Regions from separate parts of the Homo sapiens genome. Here regions 1, 2, 3, 5, 6 and 7 are each linked to region 4. Evidence: fine-mapped expression QTL. A gene starts in region 4. Each other region holds a variant in brackets. All regions are shown on one strand. Distances are between the middles of the regions.

What was found.
Region 1: its variant is fine-mapped to the expression of LINC02610 in whole blood (INTERVAL, PIP above 0.99).
Region 2: its variant is fine-mapped to the expression of LINC02610 in whole blood (TOPMed, PIP above 0.99).
Region 3: its variant is fine-mapped to the expression of LINC02610 in left ventricle (GTEx, PIP above 0.99).
Region 5: its variant is fine-mapped to the expression of LINC02610 in whole blood (TOPMed, PIP above 0.99).
Region 6: its variant is fine-mapped to the expression of LINC02610 in whole blood (INTERVAL, PIP above 0.99).
Region 7: its variant is fine-mapped to the expression of LINC02610 in whole blood (TOPMed, PIP 0.97).

The regions. Positions count from the first base shown.
Region 1 is chr2:238,582,956-238,587,022 of GRCh38, forward strand. No RefSeq gene overlaps it. Among named protein-coding and RNA genes, the nearest start is that of LINC01107, 29 kb to the left of the region's middle. The variant C/G (reference allele first, on the strand shown) is at 2,099.
Region 2 is chr2:238,268,421-238,272,487 of GRCh38, forward strand. PER2 (period circadian regulator 2) reads right to left here. Exons shown (of 23, transcript NM_022817.3): 6 at 2,892-3,093; 7 at 503-554. Among named protein-coding and RNA genes, the nearest start is that of PER2, 18 kb to the right of the region's middle. RefSeq lists an enhancer at 2,552-3,051. The variant G/A (reference allele first, on the strand shown) is at 2,186.
Region 3 is chr2:238,335,175-238,339,241 of GRCh38, forward strand. TRAF3IP1 (TRAF3 interacting protein 1) reads left to right here. Exons shown (of 17, transcript NM_015650.4): 8 at 3,188-3,283. Among named protein-coding and RNA genes, the nearest start is that of TRAF3IP1, 17 kb to the left of the region's middle. The variant G/T (reference allele first, on the strand shown) is at 1,867.
Region 4 is chr2:238,229,571-238,233,637 of GRCh38, forward strand. It overlaps LINC02610 (long intergenic non-protein coding RNA 2610), which reads right to left and starts at 2,107. Exons shown (of 3, transcript NR_026926.1): 1 at 1,764-2,107. It also overlaps the pseudogene TARDBPP3.
Region 5 is chr2:238,551,423-238,555,489 of GRCh38, forward strand. It overlaps LINC01107 (long intergenic non-protein coding RNA 1107), which reads right to left. Exons shown (of 3, transcript NR_037809.1): 1 at 3,052-4,067; 2 at 1-125. Among named protein-coding and RNA genes, the nearest start is that of LINC01107, 2.0 kb to the right of the region's middle. The variant G/T (reference allele first, on the strand shown) is at 2,466.
Region 6 is chr2:238,307,301-238,311,367 of GRCh38, forward strand. No RefSeq gene overlaps it. Among named protein-coding and RNA genes, the nearest start is that of TRAF3IP1, 11 kb to the right of the region's middle. The variant G/A (reference allele first, on the strand shown) is at 2,492.
Region 7 is chr2:238,250,961-238,255,027 of GRCh38, forward strand. PER2 (period circadian regulator 2) reads right to left here. Exons shown (of 23, transcript NM_022817.3): 19 at 1,952-2,742; 20 at 639-801. Among named protein-coding and RNA genes, the nearest start is that of HES6, 13 kb to the left of the region's middle. The variant G/A (reference allele first, on the strand shown) is at 2,481.

The DNA.
Region 1 (4,067 bases), 350 kb after region 4:
AGGAGAATGAACACAGGAGGAACTACCAAACACTTATAAAACCATCAGATCTTGTGAGAACTCACTATCATGAGAACAGCATGGAGGAAACCACCCCAATGGTCCAATTATCTCCACCTGGTCTCTCCCTTGACATGTGGGAATTATGGGGATTATAATTCAAGATGAGATTTGAGTGGGGACACAAAGCCTAACCACATTAGTAGCTATACCATTTTTTCATTCCCACCAGCAATGAATGGGAATTCCTGTTGCTCCACATCCTTGCCAGCATTTGGTGTTGTCAGTGTTTTGGATTTTGGCCATGCTATTAGGTGTGTACTGGTATCTCATTCTTTTGATTTGCAATTCCCTAATGACATATGATGTGGAACATCTTTCTATACGCTTATTTGCCATCTGTATATCTTCTTTGGTGAGGTATTTGCTCAAGACTTTTGCCTGCTTTTTAATTGAGTTGCACATTTTCTTGTTGAGTTTTAAGAGTTGTTCTTTGTATATTTTAGATAATAGTCCTTTATCAGATGTATATTTTGCAAATATTTTCTCCCAGTCTGTGGCTATTCTTTTCATTCTTAAGCATTAATCGATTTTCAAATGTTGAACCAACCTTGCCAACCTGGGATAAATCTCACTGGGTCATGGTGTACAATTCTTTTTATACATTCTTGGACTCAATTTGCTAATATTTGTTGAGAGTTTTTACGTCTATATGCATAAGAAATATTGGTCTGTAGTTTCTTTCCTTGCAACGTCTTTGGTTTTGGTATTAGAGTAATGCTGGCCTAATGCTGAAATGAGTTAGGAAGAATGAGTTAGGAAGTATTAAGTAGTATTAGAATGAGTTAGGAAGTATTCCTTCTGATTCTGTCTTCTGGAAGATATTATAGAGTATTGGCATAATTTCTTTCTTAAATGTTTGGTAGAATTCACCAGGAAATCCATTTAAGTCTAGTGCTTTCTGTTTTGGAAGGTTATTAATTATTGCTTCAATTTCTTTAACAGATAAAAGCCAATTTATATTGTCTGTTTCTTCTTGTGTGAGTTTTGGCAGATTGTGTCTTTCAAAAAACGGGCCCATTTCATCTGGGTTATCAAATTTGTGGGCATAGAGTTGTTCATAGTATTCCTTTATTACCCTTTTAATATCCATGGGCTCTGTAGTGATGTATCCTCCTTTATGTCTGCTATTAGTAATTCATGTCTCCTTTCTTTTTTTTCCTTAGCATATTAATCACAGTTATTTTAAATTCCTGGTCTGAGAATTCCAACATTCCTGCCCTATCTGAGTCTAGTTCTGACGCTTTGTCTATCTCTCCAAACTATGTTTTTTGCCTTTCGGTATGCCTTGTAATTATTTTCTTGGTAGCCTAACATGACATCCTGGGTAAAAGGAACTCTGGAAGACAGGCCTTCAGTGATGTGGTGTAAGGCATGGGGAGAGAAGTGAAGGGAGCGTCCGTCCTATAGTTCTATGAGTAGGTCTTGGTCCTTTGGTAAGACTATGTCTCTGGACTGTGAACTTCACAAGTGTTTCTCAGTTTTTCTCTCCCCTCCTAGCTAGGACATAATGTGTAGAGGGGGTTGGAGCTGGGTATTTCCCTTCCTAGGTAGTTAGGCTCTGCTAAAATCCCAGCAGGTTAGGCTCTGGTAATGTAGTTTCTTCTGAGGGCAGGCCTCAGAATGCCCCAGTGTAGTTTAAACTGGTTCCTTTTTCTCTCCCCCTGCCAGAAGCATGAGGAGATTCTCCCCTGATTTCATTGTGAGAACCTGGTGGAGCTCCTGGAGGTAAAATTCACAAAAGAGGCCAGGGCCCCCTGTGATTGGGCCTGCCTGGAGTTTTTAACTCTCAAACTTGCGCACCCTGAGCCTCTGGCAATTTGTCATTTACAGCCCAGGGTTTCGACGCAGGCCTGATTCCTGCAGATGTGTCTGCTCTGGTGGGCTGGGATTCTCTGTGTCCACCTGTTTTTTATTTTTTCTTTCTTTCTCATAGTTCAATTTTTTTTTATTATACTTTAAGTTCTGGGATACATGTGCAGAACGTGCAGGTTTGTTACATAGGTATAGATGTGCCATGGTGGTTTGCTGCACCCAT[C/G]AACCCATCATCTACATTAGGTATTTCTCCTAATGCTATCCCTCCCCTAGCCCCCAACCCCCCAACCTTTTTTTATCTTCAGTTTGGAAAGCAGCAGTTTGCCCGGAGACCTCATTTCTCTGGTAGACCCAAGAATAGTTGTTAATTTTTCAGTTCATTAAGCTTTTCACTTGTTAGGATAAAGGGATGACTTCTAAGCTCCTTACGTGAGGAAAAGGAAACCTGAATTCTGACACTATTTTAAAATTTAAAATAGTGAATAGAAACCAGTAACCATGGAAACCACTTTCCCCCAAATAGATGGACTTGACCAAAAAATCATCATACAAAATTTATTTTTCTATGATGAGAATGTGTTATTTCTATAAAAAACTTGTTATTTAAATATTAAATTTTGAGGGAGGATCCTACCTTTGACCCACTACTTACACTTTTATGTATGATGCTAAGCCCAGAGCAGGGCCGGGACCTGGCTCTCCCCTCACCCTTGAGACCATGCTCCTTTCTGAGAGGGAGAATAAAATTCATGTAAAGGGAGATAAACTTCATGAGCAAAGATGTCCACAGTGGTCAGTCTTCAAGAATAGTCTGGAAACACCGTACGTGCTCTGATGTTAGAACAGAATGAGGGCAGCCGACGTGAAACCTAGGTTTAAAAAGAGTCTGAGAGCAACATGGAAAGGCAAGACCTGAGCTTGTAAATTCAGTGTTTCAAAGTTTCATAGATTCCAAATTTTCCATAATATAAATATTTGTTACATTTATATTTAGAAAACCTGTTATAAAATGTCACTGAGTGAAGGCCCTCTAATCTTTTTGCCCTGCTCACCCCTCTAGTGGTAGCCAGGCCCCTGCCCTAGAGCTGAACCTCGGTGAGGCTGAACTTTCCTGCATTGTGTTGGCTCCCAGCTGAGCCACATGTAGTTGGTAGCTGATTTTTCGGTCAGGTTGGTCTATTTGGGGGAAAGCGGTTTCCGTAGTTGCTGGGTCTACCCTCCAGGTTCCCTTGTTCAGCTCAGCAAAGTTCCTCATTTCCTGCCACTGCACTGTCAGCCCGGCTGTCCTCTGCCCCATGGCATTTACATTCTTCCAACCAGAAACTACAAACAGCAACAGCAAGAAGCTGCTTTGCACAATGACTGAAAAGCCACGAGGGTCTCCCCGCCAAGACGAGCAGGCTGGTGGGGCCAGCCCTGGAGTGGTCAGGCGGCAGGGCCAGCGCGGGGTGTCCAGGTGGAAGTGCGGCAGCCTCTGGGAGATGGGAGCTGCTGGGGGTGCGCTGGGGCGGATGACCACACCACGAGGCTCTGTGCACTGGCAGGCCCAGTCCCCGTCACATGCGGGTCCAAGACACTCCACGGCAGCATTCCTGCTTTGACAACACGTTTCCCACTTGGAGTGAAATCAGTCCGTGAAAATCTCTGCCTGGGACTGCCTGCTCTCTGCCCAAGTGCAGCAGCCGCAGAACAAGCCCGATTCTCCGAGCCCCGTCAGCCGTCCATGTGAATCCTTTCGAACATGAAAAGGAGGCGCGCTGGCCTCTGGCTTGTGTCTTGAGCCTTTGAATGAGCAATTCCCCTGCCAAGAACGTGTTCTGAATGGCTGTTTTGTGTGGTGGGGGATAGTTCTTTGCAGATTCAGAATCTAGATGACTACTAACGAGCGTGAAGCGCCTGGTGGTTTTGGAAGTAAGCCTTCCCAGACTTCAGAACCCACGTGAGTCCCCCGACTACAAAGAGCATATTTTAGCTGCTGAGTGAGGGAGCAGCCAGTGGAATCCCATGGCCGTGTGTTAGTCTGGGCTTCCCTGAAAACAGGGAAGGGAGACTTGGATGCAAGTGGTTTAGTTGGGAGGAGACGCCAGGTGAGGCTTGTGACCTGGGAGAGAGAGCAGGGAGGAGAGCTGAGTGGGAGGTCAGTGAGCAGAGTCCTGGTGTGGTCATTGGGACTCAGCCCCAGGATCCTCTGA
Region 2 (4,067 bases), 39 kb after region 4:
GCAGCCTGCACCCTGGGTTGGTAAAGCAGACAGAAAAGGGGTGCTGCTCCCGCCAGGGGTCCTCGGCCCTGACTCCTGAGGGTGCCAGGGTCTGGCTCGGGGTCACTCCTGACAGTGCAGCTGGATGCTCAATCAGTCACCCTGGTTTGGACCAAGACCCTTGTCGGGAAAGCTACGGGTCTCTCCCCAGAAAAACGCACAGACAACCAAAAGACGCAGTGCTTTCAGAAACTCTGTCGACCCTGGGGTACAGGCCTTTGCAAGACACAGAGAGAAAGTGCAGGTCCATGAGGGGCAGGTTAAAGCACTCCACTGCTGGCCGCATTCTTAGCGACCTGTACACATTTAAAATGTAACTGACTGTGTTTTCTGGTAGACTTCAGAAACAGGCGTGCTGAGTCCCTGCAGGCAGGGATCACGCCCCCCAGCCTCAAGCGGAGCAGTGCTGGGGTGAAATGTTTATACGGTTTTCTAATTTAAGAAAACTGGGAACCAGGCTTACCTGACACGGCAAAAGAAAGATTTCTCCTCCATGCATTCTTGAGTAAAAGAATCTAAAAGAGAGAGCCCAAAGTCATTCATCCAAACCAACAACTAAATACAGTGTTCCTCATTTCTCACAAACAAAAGAGGAGCAGCAGAATCAAGCAAGATTCAAGGTGAAAACTGAAAATTTATGGAAGCACAAAGTAAATCCTTTATGTGAGAAACCTTCTATTACATTTTTGACTAAAATTACATAGACTTCATGAGTGTGGTGCATTACAAATTATGCAGTGCTAAAATTTTAGCACCAGGAGGCTTACATTTTCAAAATGGCACATGATGTTGCTGCAAACACACCAATTAATTAACCACTGAACACACTCACGGTGCACTGCTGCAAACACACCAACTAACCTGCAACTGAACACACTCACGGTGCACTGCTGCAAACACACCAACTAACCTGCAACTGAACACACTCACGGTGCACTGCTGCAAACACACCAACTAACCTGCAACTGAACACACTCACGGTGCACTGCTGCAAACACACCAACCTGCAACTGAACACACTCACGGTGCACTGCTGCAAACACACCAACCTGCAACTGAACACACTCACGGTGCACTGCTGCAAACACACCAACCTGCAACTGAACACACTCACAGTGCACTGCTGCAAACACACCAACTAACCTGCAACTGAACACACTCACGGTGCACTGCTGCAAACACACCAACTAACCTACAACTGAACACACGGTGCACTGCTGCAAACACACCAACTAACCTACAACTGAGCACACTCATGGTGCACTGCTGCAAACACACCAACTAACCGACAACTGAGCACAGTCACGGATGTCCAGAACATTGACAAAGAAAGCTGTGGAGGCCACAGCAGCTATATCTTGGAAGCTAAGCCTCCATGCTGATTTTTGATTAACCCCACTTCTGGGAAGGCCTCGGAGATTTCATCTACCTACTGTCCCTGAGTAAGAGCAGGTACTTAAGGTAAATCCTGCCCTCAGGGCAAATTCCTACTGGTTCCCTCTGAAGCCGGTGTGCCAGTCCCACAGAAGCCCTGGGTCTGGGGGAATGGCAAGACTGGGATCCAGTCTTGTCTCATCGCCACCCACAACATGCATGGCCTCTGTTCTTAAGTCCCTGTTAAATATTTCTTTCTAAGAAACCGAATTTGTCAGCCTCTTTCTTTGGCCTCTCAGCTGCCTCAGACTTTGGGGTAGGTGTGCAGAGGCCTGGCCACAGTGAAACAGAAGCCCCAAACATTTCATGCTACATATTTTTGGGATAGTCAGTTCTAACAGAAACAACTTGGCATTCAAGGCTTACATCGGTATTTTGGTAAAATAGTAACTTCCTTTAAAATGTGAAATGTCTAGTGAAAATATGAAATCAATTGGGCAACCTCATCAGAAATGAAGGAAGAGGTGTTTCCCTAATAGTTGAAAGGGATTTAAAAAACAGAAATCTCTGCTTTCGTGGGAATCTAAACTAAAAAAAAAAAAAATCTTAGATCTAGGTCTTTCATACATTTCATCTACTCAAAAGAAATTAGGAAAGTAGAAGCAATGGCTAGTTACGGAAAATGATATAAAATCAGCAGCTTGGAAAGGCCCCTGAGAATTCACCTGGTCCTTGACTTAGCTGGGCAGGGAGGAGAGCTGGGGCACAGGAG[G/A]CCCTGAGGAGAGTGGGGGTCAGAGGCACCGGCAGAGGCCCAGAGGCAGGCACACCCCCAGCTGGCTCCAGGGACTAGACCAGACCCGGCTGGGAGGGCCTGGCTGGGGAGCGGAGCCTGGAAATGAGGCAGGGTAGACGGTGGCTACAGGGGCAGGCCCAGCAGCCAAGAAGGCTGCCATCCACAGTGCAGCACACTTGGCCTGCAGTGCCTCGGGGGCCAGCGGCATCTGCCCAGGGATCTCACAGTCTGTATACCCAAAGCCAGCCCTGGTCAAGGCAAAGAACCCTCAGGAAGTCACTCTGGGATATGACCCACTCACTGGTTGCAGCTGCTAAGGTGGCAGGGGGACGCCTGCGTGCAGGGAGCAGGGTGCCTTGCTCACGCTCCCCACTGCCCCCACGACCCGGCCTCCCACGACTGCAATCACAGCAAGATTCCAGCTTTTCCAAACAACTTCATTTCTAAAATGCCTAACGGTTTTCTCTCTCTGAAATGTATGGAAAGACTATTTTTTTCTCTAAATTTATTCTGAAGGGACGAACAACTGCTTATCCTTTACCTTTGCCAGAGCAGGCAGCTGGCGGCCCCCACAGGTGGGCTCTGAAAGGTGAGGCAGGGCGCCTGCACCACATCTGGGTTGGGCCCAGCTCCTGGCCCCTTTCCCGACCCCAGAGGGAACAAGGCACTACCTCGATAACCTCACCTGCTCCACTGCACATGCTCCACAAGGGAAGCTTGTACGGGGAGGTGAAACTGTGGAACACGCCCACATCGTGAGGCGCCAGGAACTCCACAAACTTGGCATCGCTGAAGGCATCTCTTTTACAGTGAAATATGGATGCAACCTGGTCAGAGATGTACAGGATCTTCCCAGACACCAGGGACACGGCCACCGCAAACATATCCTGAAAAGGAAGAGTAGGGCTCTGATGACAAGGTCAGATGGTGTCGGACGCCACATCCGACTCAGGCAGGCAGGCTGGAGGGAGCCGCCCACCAGGAGCGTTGGAGGTGGGGGGCTCTCTGACTCCCTTGCCTAGCCCTCACCAAAAAATCCTATCTTGCCTGTTGACAGAGCAGGAGCATCGCCATCTTGGACAAGCCCCTCATTCTAAAGTTCACCTTAATAAAAAACAGCCTACATCCAAAGGGCATCAGCCTAATGGCTAAGGTCAACATGACCATAAACCACAAATAACATCTCCAACCAGAAACATTCCAAACTCCTCCCGGACCAGAGACATACTAGCCCCGAGATGACCCCAATCCGGGCCGGAAAGATGCCTGCCCCAAGATAACCTCCCCTCCTCCCAGAGAGATTCCAGCCCCGCCATAAACTTCTCCACACACAGAAACATTCCAAGCTTGTGATAAGCCCCCTCACCCTAAAACCAACATATACTCTCAGTCTGTAAGAGAAAGCGCTCCTGACCAAAATCGGCCAGGAGTACCTCTCAGGTTTTAACTAAAGAAAACCTGTCTTTGACTGCCAAGCTGCGTTTCATGTTTCTTTCCTCTTTAACTCTTACACCTGTTACAGATACTGGGAGGTCCAGCATGATATTATTTGAAACAACACATCAGGGTTCTATGGCTGGAAGAAACCCCAGCTGTCTCCACCCCCTGGGAGGCGCCACTCACCCCGCTGTCTTGGACATGGCACCTGGTGTCCAGGCTGGGTGACTGGGAGGTGGGGGACCCTCTGCTCACTTGGCCTGCCCTAACAACCTCCACCAGCCTTGCTGTCTCCCAGGGTTCTAGGGGCTTCCTGGGGAGGAGAGGCCTCTGGTTGGGCCCCTCCAGCCCACCATGGGCGCTCTACCTGCTGGCTGGCCCTCTGGGCTCAGGGTTGGGGGCTGCCTGGGGGTTACGCTGGAGG
Region 3 (4,067 bases), 110 kb after region 4:
AAACTGTTATGTGCTTGAGGCCTCTAATCTTTTTTTTGGTAATCTGTCCAGAGATTTGAGAGGTGAAGATTTGTGCTTTATCATACATTTTTTTTTACTTAATTTCTTATGTTATCTCTTACTTTAATTCATGGTATAAGGTGAGGCTCTGAATCTATTTTGTCAGAATAATCCATCCGTGGTTCCAGGATCACTTATTCATTGAATGCTTCTCTCCTGCTCTGTGAAGCCTTTTGTAGTCTGGGTTACGGGCTTTTTTGTGTGTGGTGTTTTTTACTTCCACTTTTTTATTTTTACTATTAGTTTTCTATCATTGTTCTTTTCCAAAAAGTTTTAAGCCATCTTATTTGCTTATTCTTCCGGATGAATTTTAAAAACTCTTCATGACTCAAGAATTCCACTCTTGCAAAATAAACTAACGTCTCAGAATTTAACTGGACTTGTGTTAAATATATGCTTTCATTAGTTTAGGAAGTTTAGGCACCTCTAACTTCAGCTTAGTGAAGGTGTCCCCCTCTTCTGAGAACACGTTGCGTGTACTTGGTTGCGTATGTTGGTCACAGTGGTTGCTCGCTGGTTTATTTTATTTTATTTTATTTATTTATTTATTTATTTATTTATTTATTTATTTATTTATTTATTTTGAGACGGAGTCTCACTCTGTTGCCAGACTGGAGTGCAGTGGCGCAATCATGGCTCACTGCAACCTCACTGCAAGTGATTCTTCTGCCTCAGCCTCCTGAGTAGCTGGGATTACATGTGTATGCCACCACGCCCAGCTAATTTTTTGTATTTTTAGTAGAGACAGGGTTTTACCATGTTGGCCAGGCTGGTCTCGAACTCTTGACCTCAAGTGATCTGCCCGCCTCAGCCTCCCAAAGTGCTGGGATTACAGCTGTAAGCCACTGTGCCTGGCCTGTTGTTGCCTCTTAATCCAGTAGTTCTTCTGTTGATTCTTTTGGCTTTCCTAAGCAGACAGTTGTATCATCTGCTCTTCTTTTCTAATTGCTTCTGATATGTGCATCTGTGTTTACTGGTGAGCTTGTGCTCTAGGGTTCTTTTGTATGGTCTTAAGAGATTTTATTAGCAGACATTTATGGGCTTTTTGACACTGAGCTTCCCTGAGCTATCAACAGCTCAGTGGACTCCTGTCTTCCCCTCCTGCTAGCCGGGCACTGACCTCCCTGTGGGTTCCCCAGCAAAGCTGGCACTCTGCCTGAACATTCTGCCTCGCTTAAGTAGGTTCTCATTTGGGCAAATGCTCAGTACCCAGAGGTGTGTGACACACTGGACCTCTGTGTCTTGCTCAAGGGGATGAATGAGACTTTACTACAGGGTGTGAGGGTATCACATTGTTAAACATATTTAGACTCTTAAAGTCATTCTGGAATCCCTGCAGAATCCAGAAAGCATTCTGCCTGAGAATATTATAATTTTTGCTTATTTCTAAGTAGTGCATACAGAGCTGATCACTTTGACTTAATGAGTACATTTTAATTTCATTTGTTTGTTAACTGCTTTACATTACATTACAGATTAAGTTTAATATATATTTTCATTGTGCAATTTTATGTCAGGAAGAAGGGACCCTAAAACCAGTGAAAATAGTCTTTCCCCTGAAAAGGAACATAACTTTTCCTACTGTAAAGCTAAGAAGGAACATAGCATGAAACAGCTTGGTAAGCTAAGTGAACCATAGTGGAGGCTGTGAGTGAATGTTGAGAGTTGAAAGCTTTACTGCCTGGTCCTGTGCTTCTGCTTGGTCATTGAACATGTGGAAGTCTGTGGGGGTGGTTGGCATAGGTGTGGCCCTGCTTGACCTGGGGCCTGCGCTCTAGAACACTGCCTTCTGGCCAGGGTGGAGAG[G/T]GGGCAGAGGGACATGTTGGCCCCATGCAGGGCTGCCCCTGGCCAGGTGAGGATTTCCTACCCTGAGTCAATCACAGGCTTAAATTGTCCATTTGAGCCTTCCTTCACTGATTCTGCAGACATTTATGATAATAAAGAGAACACAGGGGTACATATGTGCATGTTAGTTTGTGATGAATCTTCAAGGAAAATGAAGCCAAGAGGAGCAGGAATGAGGGGCGTGAGCAGGGAGGGCCTCTCTGAGGGAGGACATCTGGACAGAGAGCTGACTTGGGTGAAGGAGGACATGCAGGTGTGTGAGTGGTGAGGTGGGTGGAGAGAGGAACAGTGATAGGGGAAAGGGCCGGGCCAGGAAGCAGGGCCTGGAGCTGCTGGTCCCGGAGCTGCTGTTCCCGGTCCACAGCAGCTGTGTGGTTTACAGTGAGTGCACACAGAAGTCCTTGAAGAGTTTTAAGCAGCACCGAGGCAAGATTTGACTTAGGTTGTAGAAGGCCTCCTTTTAAAACTGTGGAGTGGCAGGAGTAAAGGCTGCAGCGCAGCGAGGAGGGGGCCATGGCATCTGGATGAGAGGAGGTGATGGTTTGGACCAGAGTGCCAGTGGTGACAGCAGAGTGGGTTTACTGTGCTGGCAGGTTGGATGCCACTTGTTTGAACGGAAAGGAATCAAAGATGAGATTCATTGTGGGAGGGGTCTGGGCTCCTAGGGGGTGGCCTTTATTGACATAGACGGTTCTGGGAGACACTGGTTGGTGGAATGGGTGGCAGTGTTAGGAATTCTGTGTTGGACAACAAATTTGAGATGGCTATGGACCAACCAAGTAGAAACATCTAGTCGACAGCTGGATATATTGACTTGGAGATCAGGAGAGAGCTGGAGAAACCAAAGGGAAAAACAAAAAATGGAGAGTTCTAGCATACAAGTGATGTTTACGGACATGGACCTTTGCGCAGTAATTAGTCCAGGGGCGTGTGTAGGTAGGAAAGGACGTGGTGAACTCCAGAGCTTGCTGTGGTCCCCCAGGTCAGAAGAGGAAGAGGAGGAGGAGGAAGAGGAGGAGGGAGGATCATCCTTGCAAAGGAAACAGAAGGCCAACAAGTTGGAGGAAAACTTGGAGAGGAAGAAAGTGTTAGGGAAGGAGAGGGGGCTTCTTGTCAAGCTCTAAGGAGGGGAATCATGTGGAGGCTGAGAATTGACCATTTAGTTGACAAGACAGTTTGCTGGTGACCTTGGTGTAATGTAACCCTTATAAATCCCAGCTAAAACAACCAAACACAAAATCTTTTATAATATTTTAATCTGTTGTTAACTATTTTATGTCAGGAAGGAAGGAGGATAATATTTCAGCTAAAAGTTTAGACTCCATAGTGTCTGGAATAAATAATGAGCCAAATCAGGAAACGACAACATCAGAAATAGGTAAGAAAAATATATTCTTTAGTTTAAATTCCTCACCACTTTAATGTGAATGGTTATATCTCAATGTAGTTATACATTGTTAAAAAATTATTCTAACTACTTTAATGTTCATGAGACTTTTTCATGATGTATTGAAGACTGGACATAACTTGAGGTTTTATTTGCTTTAATATGCTAAGTTATGTAACTTTATTAACTCAGCTTTTAGTTAATTATATGCCTTTTTATACATAGATTATTTTTACATTTCAGTCAAAATGCTTTCTTAATCTTGCTGTCGGGATCTCACAGTGGTGTGGCTGATGACATAGAGAAACGGTTTTTATGTCTTCGTCCTGCTCTGCTTTATTCTACTCAGAAAATGCTCGCAGTAGAGATGTTTAAAGTGCTAGTTAGGCACGTTGGGGAAGTTGGCCTGTCACAGCCAATCACATTCAGTCCAGCCGTGTGGTGGGTGTGCCCAGCCCTCGTCCTGCTGCCTCAGAGGGGGTGGTCCTTGGTTCAGTATCAGTAACCACTGTCATCTGTGACTTCAGACGGAATTCTTCAAGATGCTAGAATTCTTCAGTTTCACTTAAGGTAAAAATAGTGTAAAATTAGACTTTAGGGGAAGAGGAAATTTTTGCTGGGCCCAACTTGCCTTGTATCTGTCTGACTTTTACACGTTCTGGAGCGTAGCTGGAATACCGATCAGCACATCCTTCTCTCTCTGTGTGCGTTCCCCTGAGAGCTGGCATTTCCAGGAGTGGGCGCACTTGGTACAGCAGCCGCAGTGTGAAAGATG
Region 4 (4,067 bases):
GAGAGGGCTGGGCTGGAAATAGATTTTGCAGCTGGTAGCACAGCAGGTGAAGCCATGGAGATCATACAGATTACAGCCTAGAAGCTAGAGAAGAGGGCCTAGCAAAGAAATGTGGGGCACAATATTTAAGAAGACAATATTCGCCGGGCACGGTGGCTCATGCTTATAACCCCAGCACTTTGGGAGTGAGGCAGGTGGATTGCTGGACCAGCCTGGGCAACACTACAAACATCTCTCTCTACAAAAAAAATACAAAAATCAGCCAGGCATGGTGATGTGCGCCTATAGTCCCAGCTACTTAGGAGGCTGAGGTGGGAGGATCACTTGAGTCTGGGAGGTCGAGGTTGCAGTGAGCCATGATCGTACCACTGCACTCCAGCCTCCAGCCTGAGACAGAGTGAGAACCTGTCTCAAAAAAAAAAAAAAAAAAGACAACATTTAATATCCAGTTGTGAAGAGCCACTGCCAGAACCTGAGAAGGAATGGTGGAACAAGAAGAGCAAGAAGACTAGACAGAGAACAATTTTTTGAGATAAGGTCTCACTCCCATTGTCCAGGCCAGAGCACACTGGCGTGATCTCAATTCACCGCAGCCTTGACTTCCCGGGCTCCAGTGATACTCCCACCTCAGCCTCTCGAGTGGCTGGGACTACAGGTGCGGGCCACCATGTCTGGCTAATTTTTTGCATTTTTGGTAGAGATGGAGTCTTGCTATGTTGCCCAGGCTGGTCTTGAACTCCTGGGCTCAAGCGATCTGCCTAACTCAGCCTCCCAAAGTGCCGGGATTACAGGTGTGAGCCACCGTGCTCTGGCAAGAACAATGTTTTAAGAAGCATGAGGATGTTGAGTATCAAATGCCGCAAAGTTCGGGTGAGAAAACTGAAGAGTCTACTCGGCAATCAGGAGTTCATTGGAGACTCTGGCAGAAGTTTTCTATAGTAGAATGGCAGGAAATGTAGCCATACTGAAATTTTGTTAGGGACAAACAGGTGATGAGGAAATGAAGAAAATGAGAATGAAGACTGTTTTTAAGAAACTGGAGTGTGAAGAAAACAGTAGGACAATAAGTAAGAAACCTCAACGGGGTGTGAGGACAAGTTCCCCAGGATAAAGTGGATAAGATGGAGGTTGGCACTTAAGATTTGGAGCAGGTTCAACAGAGAGGAATGGCAAGGTTTGAGGGATGGTTCCTGACGTCTAAGGGCGCATTTAATATTCTTTCAAGGTTAAGGTGGGGCAAGATCTGGAGGAGAGAGGATAGTACCCCAAGTGTCATCATCCATTGACAGGTCAATAGGTAGTACAGCGACATGGGAACAGAGCAGGTGTGCACAGAAAGCATGGTTTCCCAGGGAGGGCAGTATTTTTCCATGAGGATGCAAGAGTGAAAAGCCTGGGAGATTCCACGAAGAGCTGAGGGGCTTCTGAGCCACAGCTTAAACCTTAACCCTCCTCCTCTCAGATACATTCAAATCCAAGTACTGATAATAATCTAGTAAGACCTGGGCTTCCCTGGCTACCGTCTATCAAGGAATGCCAGTGTCTGCCTCTGGGCAGTGCGCGTTGGATTTGGGTTCTCTGCGGGGTCTTGCTGATCTTAAAGACAATGCAGGGGCCTTGTGAGTCTCACCTCTGTACCCCCAGCACATAACAGGTGCTCAACACATTCGCGAGGGGAGCGCTGAGCAAAGCGGAGGCCCGGGTTCCCTCCTGGAGAAACCTGCTTCCCCTCCAAGGCCTCAAGCGTCCGCTCCTTCACTGACCTCAATCGTTGATTTCGGCTGCACTTCCTATCCCTGGGGGAGCTTTCAACGCTCCGCCGTCCAGGCCGCCGGGCCCCGCAGCCCGCGCCCCGCTCTCTAGGGCTGGGCCCCCAGGGGCTGGACGACCTCTCTCGCCTTCGCTTTCTCAAGCGTAAATCGGGCGGCGGGGGCTGCAGAGCCTTCATCTCTTCCTCCGTCCCGGGATGTCGGAGAGACGGCAGCCCAGCCTCCGCCACCGCAAAGCTGCTTAACGGGCAGCGCGAGTCCCTCGGGCACCGTTGGAGGCCGTTGCTCACCGTTGGGCAAGTGCTTTAAGAAGCACGAGGATGTCGAGTGTCAAATGCGGCAAAGGGCTCAGAGCTCGCCGCCAAGGGGCGTGGCCTCCGGGCCGCGGCGGCCTCTGGGAGTTGTAGTCCCGCCTCAACTTGTGGTGGCCTCTTTAAAAAAACAAAAAACAAACAAACAAAAAAACACTGGCGCTTGGGTCCGTCGCTGCCTCGGTGTCCCTGTCGGGCTTCCCAGCAGCGGCCTAGTGGAAAAGTAAAAGATGTCTGAATATATTCGGGTAACCGAAGATGAGAACGATGAGCCCATTGAAATACCATCGGAAGACGATGGGACGGTGCTGCTGTCCACGGTTACAGCCCAGTTTCCAGGGGCGTGTGGGCTTCGCTGCAGGAATCCGGTGTCTCAATGTATGAGAGGTGTCCGGCTGGTAGAAGGAATTCTGCATGCCCCCGATGCTGGCTGGAGAAATCCGGTGTATGTTGTCAACTATCCGAAAGATAACAAAAGAAAAATGGGTGAGACAGAAGCTTCATCAGCAGTGAAAGTGAAAAGACCAGTCCGATTTAATAGTGTTGGGTCTCCCATGGAAAACAACTGAACAGGACCTGAAAGAGTACTGTAGTACCTTTGGAGACGTTCTTATGGTGCGGCAAAGCCAAGATGAGCCTTTGAGAAGCAGAAAAGTGTTTGTGGGGCGCCGTACGGAGGACATGACTGAGGATGAGCTGTGGGAGTTCTTCTCTCAGTATGGGGATGTGATGGATGTCTTCGTCCCCAAGCCGTTCAGGGCCTTTGCCTTTGTTCCATTTGCAGATGATCAGATTGCGCGGTCTCTTTGTGGAGAGGACTCGATGAAAGGAATCAGCGTTCACATATCCAATGCCGAACCCAAGCGCAATAGCAATAGACAGCAAGAAGTGGAAGATTTGGTGGTAATCCAGGTGGCTTTGGGAATCAGGGTGGATTTGGTAAGAGTAGAGGGGGTGGAGCTGGTTTGGGAAACAATCAAGGTAGTAATATGGGTGGTGGGATAAACTTTGGTGCGTTCAGCATTAATCCAGCCATGATGGCTGCCCCCCAGGCAGTGCTGCAGAGCAGTTGGTGTACGATGGGTGTGTTAGCCAGCCAGCGAAGCAGCCAGGCCCATCGGATGATAACCAAAGCCAAGGCAACATGCAGAGGGAGCCAAACCAGGCCTTCGGTTCTGGAAATAACTCTTGTAGTGGTTCTAATTTTGGTGCAACAATTGGTTGGGGATCAGCATCCAATGCAGGGTCGGGCAGTGGTTTTAATGGCGGCTTTGGCTCAAGCATGGATTCTAAGTCTTCTGGCTGGGAACGTAGACAGTGGGGTTGTGGTTGGTTGGTATAGAATGGTTGGAATTCAAATTTTTCTAAACTCATGGTAAGTATATTGTAAAATACATATGTACTAAGAATTTTCAAAATTGGTTTCTTCAGTGTGGAGTATATTCAGTAGTATTTTTGACATTTTTCTTTAGAAAAAGGAACAGCTAAAGGAATTTTATAAGTTTTGTTACATGAAAGGTTGAAATATTGAGTGGTTGAAAGTGAACTGCTGTTTGCCTGATTGGTAAACCAACACACTACAATTGATATCAGAAGGTTTCTCCTGTAATATTTTATCCCTGGACTTGTCAAGTGAGTTCTTTGCATGTTCAAAATGGAAGCCATGAATTAGAACTACATTCTTTATTCCTTGTTTTAATTTGAACCCCACCATATGGATTTTTTTCCTTAAGAAAATCTCCTTTTAGAAGATCATGGTGTCACAGTTTGGTTCTTTTGTTTTGTTTTTTAACACTTGTCTCCCCTCAAACACAAAAGTACAATATGAAGCCTTCATTTAATCTCTGCAGTTCATCTCATTTCAAATGTTTATGGAAGAAGCACTTGGTTGAAAGTAGTGCTGTAAATATTCTGCCATAGGAACACTTCTGTCTACATGCCTTCTCATTCAAGAATTCGTCATCACGCATCACAGGCCGCGTCTTTG
Region 5 (4,067 bases), 320 kb after region 4:
TGCTCACACCTCAGGAATGATCCAAGACACCTCCTGGTGCAGTGCCTGCATCTCAGGGATGATCCGAGGCACCCTTAGGTGCAGTGCTCACACCTCTAGTATGATGCGTGGAATCTCACAAGCACCTAGTGATAAGAAAAGGATCATTTACTAAAGGAACTTGTGAGGCTGGCCTCAGAACTATCTGAACATTGTGTTAGGCCAGTATTTGTAATTCTTCAGGTGAAGAGTCTGTGAACCCAAGATTTTCTCTTAGCCAAAGTTCCTGCTTGTATAAGGCAGCAGAAGACAATATCTCATGTAGGAGAACTTGTTTCCTGTGTATGCACTTTCTCAATTAAACAATGTAATCAACAGCAACAGCTATTACTACTACATGAAGAATTATTTCAGCCAACCAAAAGATGAATCCAAATCATAAACTAAACATGGATTGGACAAAGAAAGGGTGGATGGTGAGCAGGGAATTCGTTTAAATGTGAAATTAAGTCCAAATAATAGTCTTGAGTCTGGACACACATCAGAACATAAACGTTTCCCTGATCACTAATCTAATCAGGTTTCCATGTGGCTGATGGAGATTGTAAAGTGCCACCAATGATAAGGTAAGTGTCACTCTCTAAGAAGCTGAAAAGTTTTATATTGCAATCTGAATGTTTGTGACCCCCCAGCCCCTATAAATTCATATATCGAAATTCTAACCCTTAAGGTGATACTATTAGGACATGGGGCCTCTGGGAGGTGAGTAGCTCATGAGGATGGTGCCTTCATAAATGGGCTTAGTGCCCTTCTAAAAGGGGCCCCAAAGAGCTTATTGGTCCCTTCCACCATGTGAGGACACAGGAAGAAAGCACTGTTTATGAGCCGGAAAAATGGCCCTCACCACACAATGAGTCTGCCTTGATCTTGGCCTTTCAGGCTCCAGAACTGTGAGAAACAAATTTTTATTATTTACAGGCTACTTAGTTCATAGCGTTTTGTTATAGCAGCTGAACAGACCAAGGCAGACTACACGTCTATTGTGGAATTAGTCACATCTCTCTTCCCTTCTAGACCGCAGTCTCTCTGAGGACAGATTATTTATTCCGAGGACATATTTTGTTTTGTGTATGACTGAGCCACTAGCAGCAACATAACCTGGAACTTAGGGAATAATCAATAAGTATTTTCTGAATAAATGTTAATAATTTTAATAAGATAAAAATCACAACAGATTAACCAAAATGGCAAAAAATGTGCAGAGAATACCAACCAAAAATAGGATGCTAGGGAAGTTGGAATAAGTGTAATTCTGCTAACTTATTCACTTTGTTTTGTTACAGTAGATCATAACGTTCAGAAACACAGGATAAGAAGTATTTTTAAAGTTATAAAAAGAATTAAGGCTGGGTGTGGTGGCTCATGCTTGGAATCCCAGCACTTTGGGAGGTCAAGGTGGGAGGATTGCTTGAGGCCAGGAGTTTGAGACCAGCCTGGGCAACATAGAGAGATCCCCTCTCTACAAAATTAAAAAAAAAAATTAGCTGGGTGTAGGTCTGTGCACCTGTGGTCCCAGCTGCTTGGGAGGCTGAGGCAGGAGGACCGTTTGAGCCCAGGAGTTCTGGGCTGCAATGAGCCGTTATGGGGCCACTGCACTTTAGCTTCCTCATGATCCTTTGGACATCCCACTCCACTCAGCAGAATTAACTTCTCCCCGTATTCATTTCCTTATATTTATATAAAAAAGAATTACAATGAAAACAACAACGATGACTGTATTCTTCCAAGGTATAGGAGAGGACAGAGAGAAAGAAGACAACCTAACAATATGTAAAACAACAATGGAAGAAAACCCCTAGGAAGCATTCCACCAGGAGATTGAAATAAGATCGTATAAGACAAAATGTATCAATTATAATTATAAATGTAAATGGGATAAATTTACCCATTTTAAGAAAAAGACTCTCGGGGGCCACATAAGCCCAAAGACTTTTTGTGTGTTTACAATAAGAAAAATGAACACAGAATCATGAGAATATTTCCAAGTAAATAAAAAAGAAAATAAAACCCAGAGTGAAGTAGGAGTCACGATATTAATACTAGAAAATTTGAGTTCAAAGAGGAAAAACTGCATGAAGAGTGTTTCTTTTTGTTGATAAAATGTTCAATCCATAATGAAGTTATATACTTCCATAAAACTAAATATAATAGACAGTATTAATATTTATTTGAGAGGCCGGGCGTGTTGGCTCACGCCTGTAATCCCAGCACTTTGGGAGGCCAAGGCGGGTGGATCATGAGGTCAGGAGTTCGAGACCAACCTGGCCAAGATGGTGAAACCCCATCCCTACTAAAAATACAAAAATTAGCTGGGTGTGGTGGAGGGTGCCTGTAATCTCAGCTACTCGGGAGGCTGAGGCAGAGAATTACTTGGACCCGGGAGGCAGAGGTTGTAGTGAGATTGCACCATTGCACTCCAGCCTGGG[G/T]AACAGAGCGAGACTCCGTCTCAAAAAAAAAAAAAAATATTTGAAGTGGGATTGGAACCACAGGGAGAAACTGGCGGCACTACAGCTGTGGGCACTCTTAATCTCCCAGTCCCTGGTAGGTTTTGGAGACGAAGGTAAGTGGGCTTAACAGGTAATAATTGCTCCGTATTACTCAGAGTGTGGATGATGTCACATTACCTTTTCCCTCCAAATCAAATAAAATTTAGCCAAAACGTCCATATGCAAAGACTGGTAGCAAGTCTGACATTATTATTATTTTTTTTTTCAATTGAAGCCTCACCCCTCCCTTGAACTCAACATGGGGACTTCTTTCTGGACAAAGGGGAGAGACCTGGTCCTCTGTCCAAGGTGCGTTCTGCCGCTGCTGCCCCCCTCCCAGGCCAGGCCTGTCCACTCAAAGCCTGGCAGCTCCAGCAGTGAGTCAAAGCCCCTGTGCCAAGTGGGGCCACAGGGATGCGGCCCCCCCGTCACCCCCACAGCCCCTTTGGCAGCCCTTCTACCCCAGGCCTGCAGCTGAGGGCCTGTCTGTTAGCTCTGCGGGTGGGCTGGAGGTGTGGTCAGTTACCTTTAGCTCCTATCTTGGTCCATTTGGGCTACCGTAACAAAATACCGTACACGGCGTGGCTTAGGAGCATCAGGAATGTGTGGCTCACAGTTCTGGAAGACGGAGGTCCGAGGTCGAAGGCCCAGCAGCTTCGGTGTCTGGTGCGGAACCGCCTTCCAGCTGGTAGGTGTCGTCTCTCAGGCCTCTTTGATGAGCCTGATCCCGTTCGTGAGGTTTCTGCCTCTGTGACCTCATCACCTCCTAATGTGAGGCCCCGCCCTCACTTGGGGATGAGGATTCCAGCATGTCCGTTTGCGGGGGACATATTCTGACCGTTGAACTCTTTAAAGCAAAGCCCTAATTTCTCCTCTTTCTTTCCTAGTGGGGCTGATGGCGCAGTGGGAAGAGTTTGACTGTCCAGATAGCCTAGTCCCAGACCCCAGACCAGAAATCCTGTTTAGGGGCTCAGTATTGAGAAAGGCAATGTCTGGGTCCCCCTTCCTCAAGGCTGGGCAAGCGGCCCTGCCCCTGTGAGAGGTGCTGCCCCTGCTACTCAGCCCTGCCCTGCGGACGCAGTCTGCTGCGGGGGTTTCTTGGCAAATTAGCCAACACATCAGGGTCTCGAGTATGCAAATAATGGAAGACTGACATGGAAGTAGTCTATGTTGTAACCATCCTTGCGACAGAGCCCACCTGACTTGCTGTGTCCCTGGATCCGCAATACATTCTAAATGCTGGAGACAGTAGAGGTCACATCTCCTAACTACAGTGTAATGACAGTCAAAATAAAAATTCAGGAATAAATTGGAACAAGAAGACTCGCTTCCTGGGAACTTAAAACAGTCATCTCATGGATAAAAGAGAAAAACCAAATCAGCAGTGACACAATATTTAGAAAAGAACAAAAAAGAAAAAGTTACATGCTAGAGCTTATTAGATGTAGCTTGGACTATACTGAGAAAATAATTCCACAGTTTAAAAACTGTTAAAGGAAATTAAGAAATCACTTGAAATGAAAGACAAACAAACCCAAGGAA
Region 6 (4,067 bases), 78 kb after region 4:
CCCCTAAAAACTTCACCGATGCAGCAGACGCCTGGAACTTCACAGGGTTTCTCTCCCACCCTCTGCAGCACACGCACCTTAATAAGGCCTCTGAGGTTTCTCCTCGTCAATCTGGTCATCCAGTTTAATTAATAGGATATCAGTATACTGAACCAGTGCAGCATTGTGCAGAGTGTCTGGTCCATCCAGACTATATTAGGAAAGAGGGAAAAGAGTTAATATGGCCCTGGGGTGAGACAATCAGTGTGTATTCTTCTTCTTCTTCTTCTTTTTTGTTTTCTTAAGACGGAGTCTCAATCTGTTGCCCAGGCTGGAGTGCAGTGGTGCAATCTCGGCTCACTGCAACCTCCACCTCCCAGGTTCAAGCGATTCTCCTGCCTCGGCCTCCTGAATAGCTGGGATTACAAGCGCCCACCGCACCCGGCTAATTTTGTGTATTTTTAGTAGAGATGGGGTTTCACCATGTTGGCCAGGCTGGTCTCAAACTCATGACCTCAGGTGATCTGATGATCTGCCCACCTCAGATCCAAAGTGCTGGGATTATTGGTGTGAGCCACCGTGCCCAGCCAATGTGTACTCTTATCCATCCTAAATGAATGTAAGCGGCTTCTGGTTCTCCTCTTAAGTAGGGATGGAAATGAATGTATTGGCTTCCTACCATGGACTTGAGATTGTGTTGACCTGCTATAGCAAAGATACCACAATTGGGGCTCCTATTTGTTTGGGTTTGCAGTATTCCACTGTCAATCCCCAGGATCCATGTGGTTTTTGCAGGGGTTTGGCTAATTAAATGACTCTATAATGGGGAGAAAGTATACCTGCATCCTTCAGGTTTTAACAGTGGAATCTATTCGTCCCTTATAATTGCTGTAACTCTCTTCAGCATGCAATATTGGTTTTTATTTACTGTCTTGGCTGGGGGAGGGGCAGTGTCAGGGATTCCCACTCAGCTTCCCAGGTCTATAGCTCTTATTCCACAATCCCAAGTATCTGGCCAACATGGGGTTACCCCATATGCCAAGTGTGTCCACTTCAATCATTGCATTTGAGGGCTCGGGAAATGACCACCAGGTGGCTCCATGGACCCTGTGGACCTACCAAAATCCAAAGTGGGGCTAGGGCTCTATCACCTGACCCCGTATGCCCTCCCTTTAACAGGAGTCAAGATGATGCTCCATGTCCCCAGGATTCTGTGTGCAATAGTCCTTGAAATGGTTCTGTATTCCCCCTCCCTGTGTATAGTTACTTGAATGAGTGGCCTTAGGTTTCTTTGGGGAAGGACTGTGGGGGAGATTTTGGCTCCCTGCACCGGCAGTGATGTTGGGAACCTGGCCTTTCAATGAGTTCTAGGTCCAAAACCAGGCAAGGGATTGTAGCGGGGGACTGGGGCAGCCACTCTCAGCCTCCTGCTCATCCATGTTTGATTTATTTTAGTTTCGAAAGCTCGGCCACACCCTTGCTGACTGCTCATTCCCCTGGTCCCTAGGAACATTTTGTTGTATTATCCGGCCGCATAGCTCTCTGCATGTCAGGTCTTCCTGGCTACCACTCTGACCTTGCCACTCTTGGCTATAAAAACCAATATTACATGCCAAATATTGTCACTTTGGTAAATGAAGTGACCTCCGAGCCCTCTCACAGGACACAGTGGGCTGGTAGGTTTGCTGGCCCAACATCACGTATGTGCTCTAGTAGGCTCATTTCCCTACCATCCTCCATGGTGGGGCTGGAAGTTTTCCTTCACTTAGTGAAGGCCATAGCTCTTTGCAGGTGTCCAAGAGCCATTCTAACAGCCCATTAGCACTGTCTCCCTGGGACCCAGCCAGGGTCACAAGCTTCTATCACGGAAAGTCCTCCCACATTCATCAACTCTTGTCTTATCCGTCTTTATATTCTGTCCCCTGCTGGGTCCAGCACTCTTGGGATGCAGTCCTGGATGTGCTCTCCTGGATCTTGCTGGTCCATGCTAGGCAGATCCTGCAGTTCCTTCGGAATAGAGTCCCTCCCTCCCTTAGCAGGCCAGCATGTCCTAGCTAGGTTATGTTGTTGTTTGACCCTCATGATTGGTCTGGTGTCAGGAGGGGGATATTGGCATAGATCCTGAAAAACGCATGCATTGTCTTGCAAGGCAGACATCTCTCTCTCTCTCTCCCCCCGCCCCCCAACTATAACACACACATTCTCTCTATATAAAACACTTCAAGAAAGGGGGTGCTAGCCTTTAACAGGAGCAGTGGGCCTCCTCTGTAGGTCCAGATGATTCAGGAGAATCTGGGGATTCTAGTTTGTTTGTTTGTTTGTTTGTTTGTTTTTGAGACAGTGGTCTCTCACGCCCACCCTGGGGGCTTCAGTTGAGCCGGTCAGTGGTGATTCAGCTCCGAAATCTCAATTTAGGGTCCATTTCCTCTGACCACTTCTGAGAGCAACTCTCTTGGGTAGAGATCTCTGGGAAACTGGGTTTGCACCCCCAACTCCATCAGCCCTTGAATGC[G/A]GGTGCCCATAGGGAGCAGGAGGCACAGTAGGCCCCTTTGGCTAAGTCTCCCCAGAAGGGAACCTGGCTGTGAGCCCACAGGGATCACTGCTTCTGGCAGCTGGGGCAGTGTGGGCCTCAGCCCTGAGTGGCACAGCACCCACCACAGGGCCAAGGCAGCCATAGCTGAGAGGGCCACGCCTTTTTTTTTTTGAGACGGAGTCTCGCTCTGTCACCCAGGCTGGAGTGCAGTGGCATGATCTCAGCTCACTGCAAGCTCCGCCTCCCGGGTTCATGCCCTTCTCCTGCCTCAGCCTCCTGCGTAGCTGGGACTACAAGCGCCCGCCACCACACCCGTCTAATTTTTTGTATTTTTAGTAGAGATGCGGTTTCACCGTGTTAGCCAGGATGGTCTCGATCTCCTGACCGCGTGATCTGCCCGCCTCGTCCCCCAAGAGTGCTGGGATTACAGGCGTAAGCCACTGCGCCTGGCCAGGTTTTGTTTCTGGCGCCCGGCTGCGCCACTCCTTTTTAAAGACTTCCTCCTTCCTCCTTCAGGCACCCACACGTTCATGCAGCCAGTATTCATGGGGTGCCCTGAGGAGACATATGGACCCTGTCCCAGCCTTCCTGGACCTTGTGCACTAGCTGGGGAAAGTCATGCCCTTGTTTAAGCATGGGCCAGGGGGAGCTGGACAGCACCGCCGGAGCTTGGAGGAGGACTCCTGGGGTCAGTGGGAGTCAACTGCAGGCTTTCAGGGAGTGGCAGGTGGGATATTTCAGGTTGGAGGGCTCAGTCAATTTACCTTCAACAAAAGTGCCAAGAGGCCAGAGGTAGTGGCTCACACCTGTAATTTTGGTATTTTAGGAGGCTGAGGTGGGAGGATAGCTTGACCCCAGGAGTTCAAGAGCAGCTTAGACAATATAGCAACATCCTATCTCTACAAAAAAAAATAAAAATTAGCTGATGGCCGGGCGCAGTGGCTCACGCTTGTAATCCCAGCATTTTGGGAGGCTGAGGCAGGTGGATCATTTGAGGTCAGGAGTTTGAGACCAGCTTGACCAATGTGGCGAAACCCCATCTCTACGAAAAACACAAAAAAATTAGCCGAGCGTGGTGGCACATGCCTGTAGTCCCAGCTACTCGGGGACGCTGAGGCAGGAGAATCGCTTGAACCCAGGAAGTGGAGGTTGCAGTGAGCCGAGATCGCACTACTGCACTCCAGCCTGTGCAACAGAGCGAGACTTCATCTCAAAAACAAACAGACAAAAAATTAGCTGAGCATGGTGGCACACGCCTGTAATCCCAGCTACTTCAGAGGCTGAGGTAGGAGGATTGCTTGAGCCCAGGAACTTGGGGTTACAGTGAACTATGGTTGTGTCATTGCACTCCAGTCTTGGACGCAGGGCAAGTGACACTCTGCCTCAAAAAAAAAAAATGCCAAGAACACACATTGGGGAAATGATGATTTCTTCAATAAACGGTGTTGGGAGAACTAGATCCATATGCAAAAGAATGAAACCAGACCCTCATCTTGCACCATATACAAAAATCAGCTCAAAATGGATTAAAGACTTAAATTTCAGACCCCAAACT
Region 7 (4,067 bases), 21 kb after region 4:
CCTGTGAAGCCCTGAGCAGCTCAGGTGGAGCTGCGTGTTAGAAGCCTTGACCTTCTCTCCCAAGCTCTCACCATCTCCACTCATGTGGACCACAGGGCACTGCAGTTTCCCACAAGGGGAGGCAGCTGGCCTGGAGCGCTCCCTAGCCAGCCTCACCTGTGCAGCACGCCTGCGAAGGGAGGCGAGGTGAAAGCTCACTCCAGAGAAGTAGGGGAGCTTCAATTTTGTGGAGAGTGTGTACATTTCTGGTGCCTGAGATTCCAGATCACATGTGAAAGATCCCAGCGGGTAGAGGCTTGCAGGTGCTCCATACCCTCAGTTCACACAAGTGGAACTAAAGCAGGAAGGCAAACCACTATCTGGGGAGTCAGAGGGCTGGTCCCACAAGGAGCCAGGGTGTGAGGCCTGTAGGCACTGAAATCAGAAGCAAACAGGGAGGATGTGGAATTCTGACTAGCTAGGGCCAGCCATGCTGAACAGGGAGAGTGTGTCTGTGTGGGTGTCTGCATGGGCTCTGACAGCTGCTTGGGGAGTGCCGGTGATCCCTGTTCTGAGCACAGAGGCCGGCCTGTGACTCTGGAGCAGTGCATCCTGCAGGAACCTCCCAAGTGCCTAACACCCCGCCAGGGCCAACATACCTGCCCCACTCGGGGAGGCGTCGCAGCCCAGTGAGCCGGAGCCCAGAGACTCCGAAGCAGCAGAGCCCGAGGCTGAGCAGAGGTCCTCATTCAGCAGGAGGTTTAGGAGGCCGCTTGACGTGGAAAGGGCGTCACTGTTCTGTGTGTCTGAGGGTTCATCACGCTTTAGGGACAGGAAGCAGATACTGCTGTTCAGGGGCTCAGTCAGGACACAGCATATGCAGCGGGGTGGGGGTGGGGGGCATGAGTGGGGTGAGGGTGGAGGGGTGCTGTGGAGCGGCTGCAAGGTTCACGGCCAGGGACGGCCTAACGAGCAGACCACGCATCACCACCAGGCCTACGGTGCAAATTCCACTGATGCTCTATGGATGCCGTCTAGTTACATTTAATTTTCGGAGAGTCACATGGAAGACGGCAATACCTGGGCTCCAGGGGGGAAAGCCTCAGGCTGCTCCTTGGCCACAGCCCCCTCCTCACATGCAGCAGACATGGATGGGGAAAACGCCTCTCACAGCACCCGGTGTGGGGGCTGCCTTGGGATTGAGGGCGGGGCCTGGCCTGGGGAGCATCCCTGACCCTCCTCTCCTTGGAAACCCAGACTGCAGGCCCAGGACTCCAGAAGCAGGAGCCCGGAGGTGGCAGGAGGACTGGGAGAAGCTCCACAGATCTACATGCTTGCACTTCCTCACCCGGGAGCCCTAGGTCCTCTGGCCAAGGCAGGGAATCGCCTGAGGCCTACGGACTGCACTGCTGCTGGCGTTCCCACACACTTGAGCTCGTTCAGAAACACAAGCGTTTAACTGCAAATACAACTACCGTTTCATTAACTGGTTAAGAATCTCACACAGTGTCCCTACGCCTGCGGAGGATGGAAACTGAGGTCACGCTGGTTTTAGGGCTGTGTCCCCCTCCTTCTCCGCCTTCACCGGGGCCACCTGAGCCAGGCTCCGGCGCCACACCCTGAGGAGCCCTAGCTCTGGTATTTAACCTGACTGTGCTTTATCTCTGAAGCGTCATTTAAAAAGTCGAAGCCCACAAATACTGTCAAGTCACATGCTGCTTTCTGGAGTCTGTATCACAATCTCTCCTCCTTCATTCAGATTCCACGACAATAAAAGGCTTCGAATAATCTACTCTGATAGGATTAAGTGGGAAGCATGAATTTCTGGCACACACATTCATGGCAAAACCTACAGGGTTTGGTGGAAACCTCAATCGTGTAACCCCCATGTCTGAACTGAGGATGTGCGGCCGGCCTGCCAGGTGTGCTGTTTGCTGCCTGCTTTGGGGAAAGAGCATCAGAAAATCCTTACGGTCAGAGGCGCCTTCGGCTGCTGGTCCCGAGAAGTGCCAGGTTTGCAGTCCGCCCCTACAGCTGCTGTCTCTGTGGCCCCTGTGGTCCCCATGGCTCCAGTGCCACCCTCAGGGGCTTCCTCCAGCTGCAGCAGGTTGAGCTGCAGGGGCGAGCTGCTGCGGGACTGAAAGAGCGGTGGGGAGGCCCTACCCATGGCCGATGGTGGGGTGGCCCGGGTGGCTGGACAAGCACATGGCTGTCTGGGGATCGAGGTCCGGCTGGGGAACTCAGGCTGTGAGGCAGAGGCCATCTCGGATGTGAGTGTGGGGTGGCTCGGAAACTGAGGCTGGCTGGGGAAGAAGGCCTGGGGCAGGTTTGGGGTCCCCGAGGGGAAGGAATAACTGGGTAGCATGAATGCCATGACAGGCGCCAAAGGGGCAGGGAAAGGTGGGGGCTGGACTGCAAACTGGTGCTGGAGGTCCACGGGCACAGCAGGCACTGTGAAGCTGGCGTGGGGAGGTGCCGGGGGTGCTGCCACAGTCCCTGGC[G/A]CTGGAAACACGGGCAGTGAATAAGCTGCTGGCACTGGGGCGGGAAAGGGCACGGCTGGGCAGCTGGACTGGGACGTGTCTGAGGGTGACCAGGCTGTGGCGTTCAAGCCCACCAGCGGGGGCCGGGCGGACACGGGCCCCCCAGATCCGGTGCTCTCAGATGAGTCTCGAGGTTTGACCCGCTTGGACTTCAATTTTCTGTTCTTTCCTGTTTTTTTCCAAGGTGAATCTATTCCGGAAGTATTTCTTAGTCCAGGGGCAGCTAATGCAGAAAAACAAATACTCGGAGTTAAAATTTTAACTCCAAATTTGAAGACACCTCTTCGTTCAACAGTCCTGGGTTTCCAAATGCTGGCCCAGGGCCTGCCTGGTCCACCGAGCGGTTTTCCCTGATCCTCAGTGAAGTGAGAAAAATCAGGGCAAAACATCAGGTTTTTCCATAAAACTAAATTGAATCAACTTAAATTACAAGCTCTTAATTGCAGGACACATTCCTTATTTTCTTCTGGTATTAAATGTCCTTTCTTTTATGAAATGCTAATATGATAAGTGGTAATACAAAGTTCTATTTGTTAAATAAATACACTAAAAAGCTGTCATGTCTCTGCTGTTCCCCAGTATTTGGGGGAAAAATTGGTTAGTGAAATCTGAACGGGAGAGCCACTGACCTCCTCTATTTTTCAATTTATAAGCACTGTCACTACTGTTCCTTAAAGAGGGATGTTTCCTCTTTCACCTGTCAAACAGCCTGAGCAAGATCAGAGGGGAGCATTGCCTTGCAACCAAATTCTTCCTCTGCAATAACGAGTGCTGCTGAGTAAGGCATTCTTCAGGAAGATGGAGGGACTCAATTGGTAAAGGAGGGACTCTGGGTATGTCCCCATGGCCTCCCTGGGGAGTGGGAGGGGGATCCAGGGAACTTTGGTTTTCCTCTCACATCACGCGGAGTGACTTGGGGCTCTTGCAGCAGGTGTCTGGGACATCTGTCAGCTGTGCCAAGGCAGTCCCATGCCTTTGGGATGTGCTGAAGGGAAATGGGCTAGTCCAAGGCAAACTCCTATGTAAATGGAGGTTTTGCAATTCAGCCTCTCTATCTGGTGTTCTTCTCACAAGAAATCTGTCCCCTGGTGGGAACAGTGGCTAAAGCACTGGGCTCCTGGGATGTCATGTCTGGGTCTGGCAGGGCTGCCCTAGGCAGCTCTGTAGTCTGTGCACTGCATAAGGCTACAGAGTTGTCTAGGGGGCAAGCAAGAGCGGGAACTCTGCACTAGGCTGGTCCCATGGGGTGGGTCTGCTCATGGCCATGGAGTACACCTTTTTCTAATTTCTACAGAGGTTCTCTATGGGCTGGCAGTAACTCTTGAATCTGGGGAAGAAGGAGAGAAAGGAAAGAGTGGAGAAGACATAATCCTCAAGGAAGCTGTGGGCTTAATTTCTTACAAATTTCCCTTGGTGCGTCTGCCCAGAGACCCGGGGGAGCTGGGTCCTTGTGGTGAGTGGCTTCCTGGGCTCACTGGCTCTGATCCCTGTGCCAGCGTCCCAGGGGGAAGGGAAGAGGCCCCATCTCTAACAAGTGTCTGGGGGTAT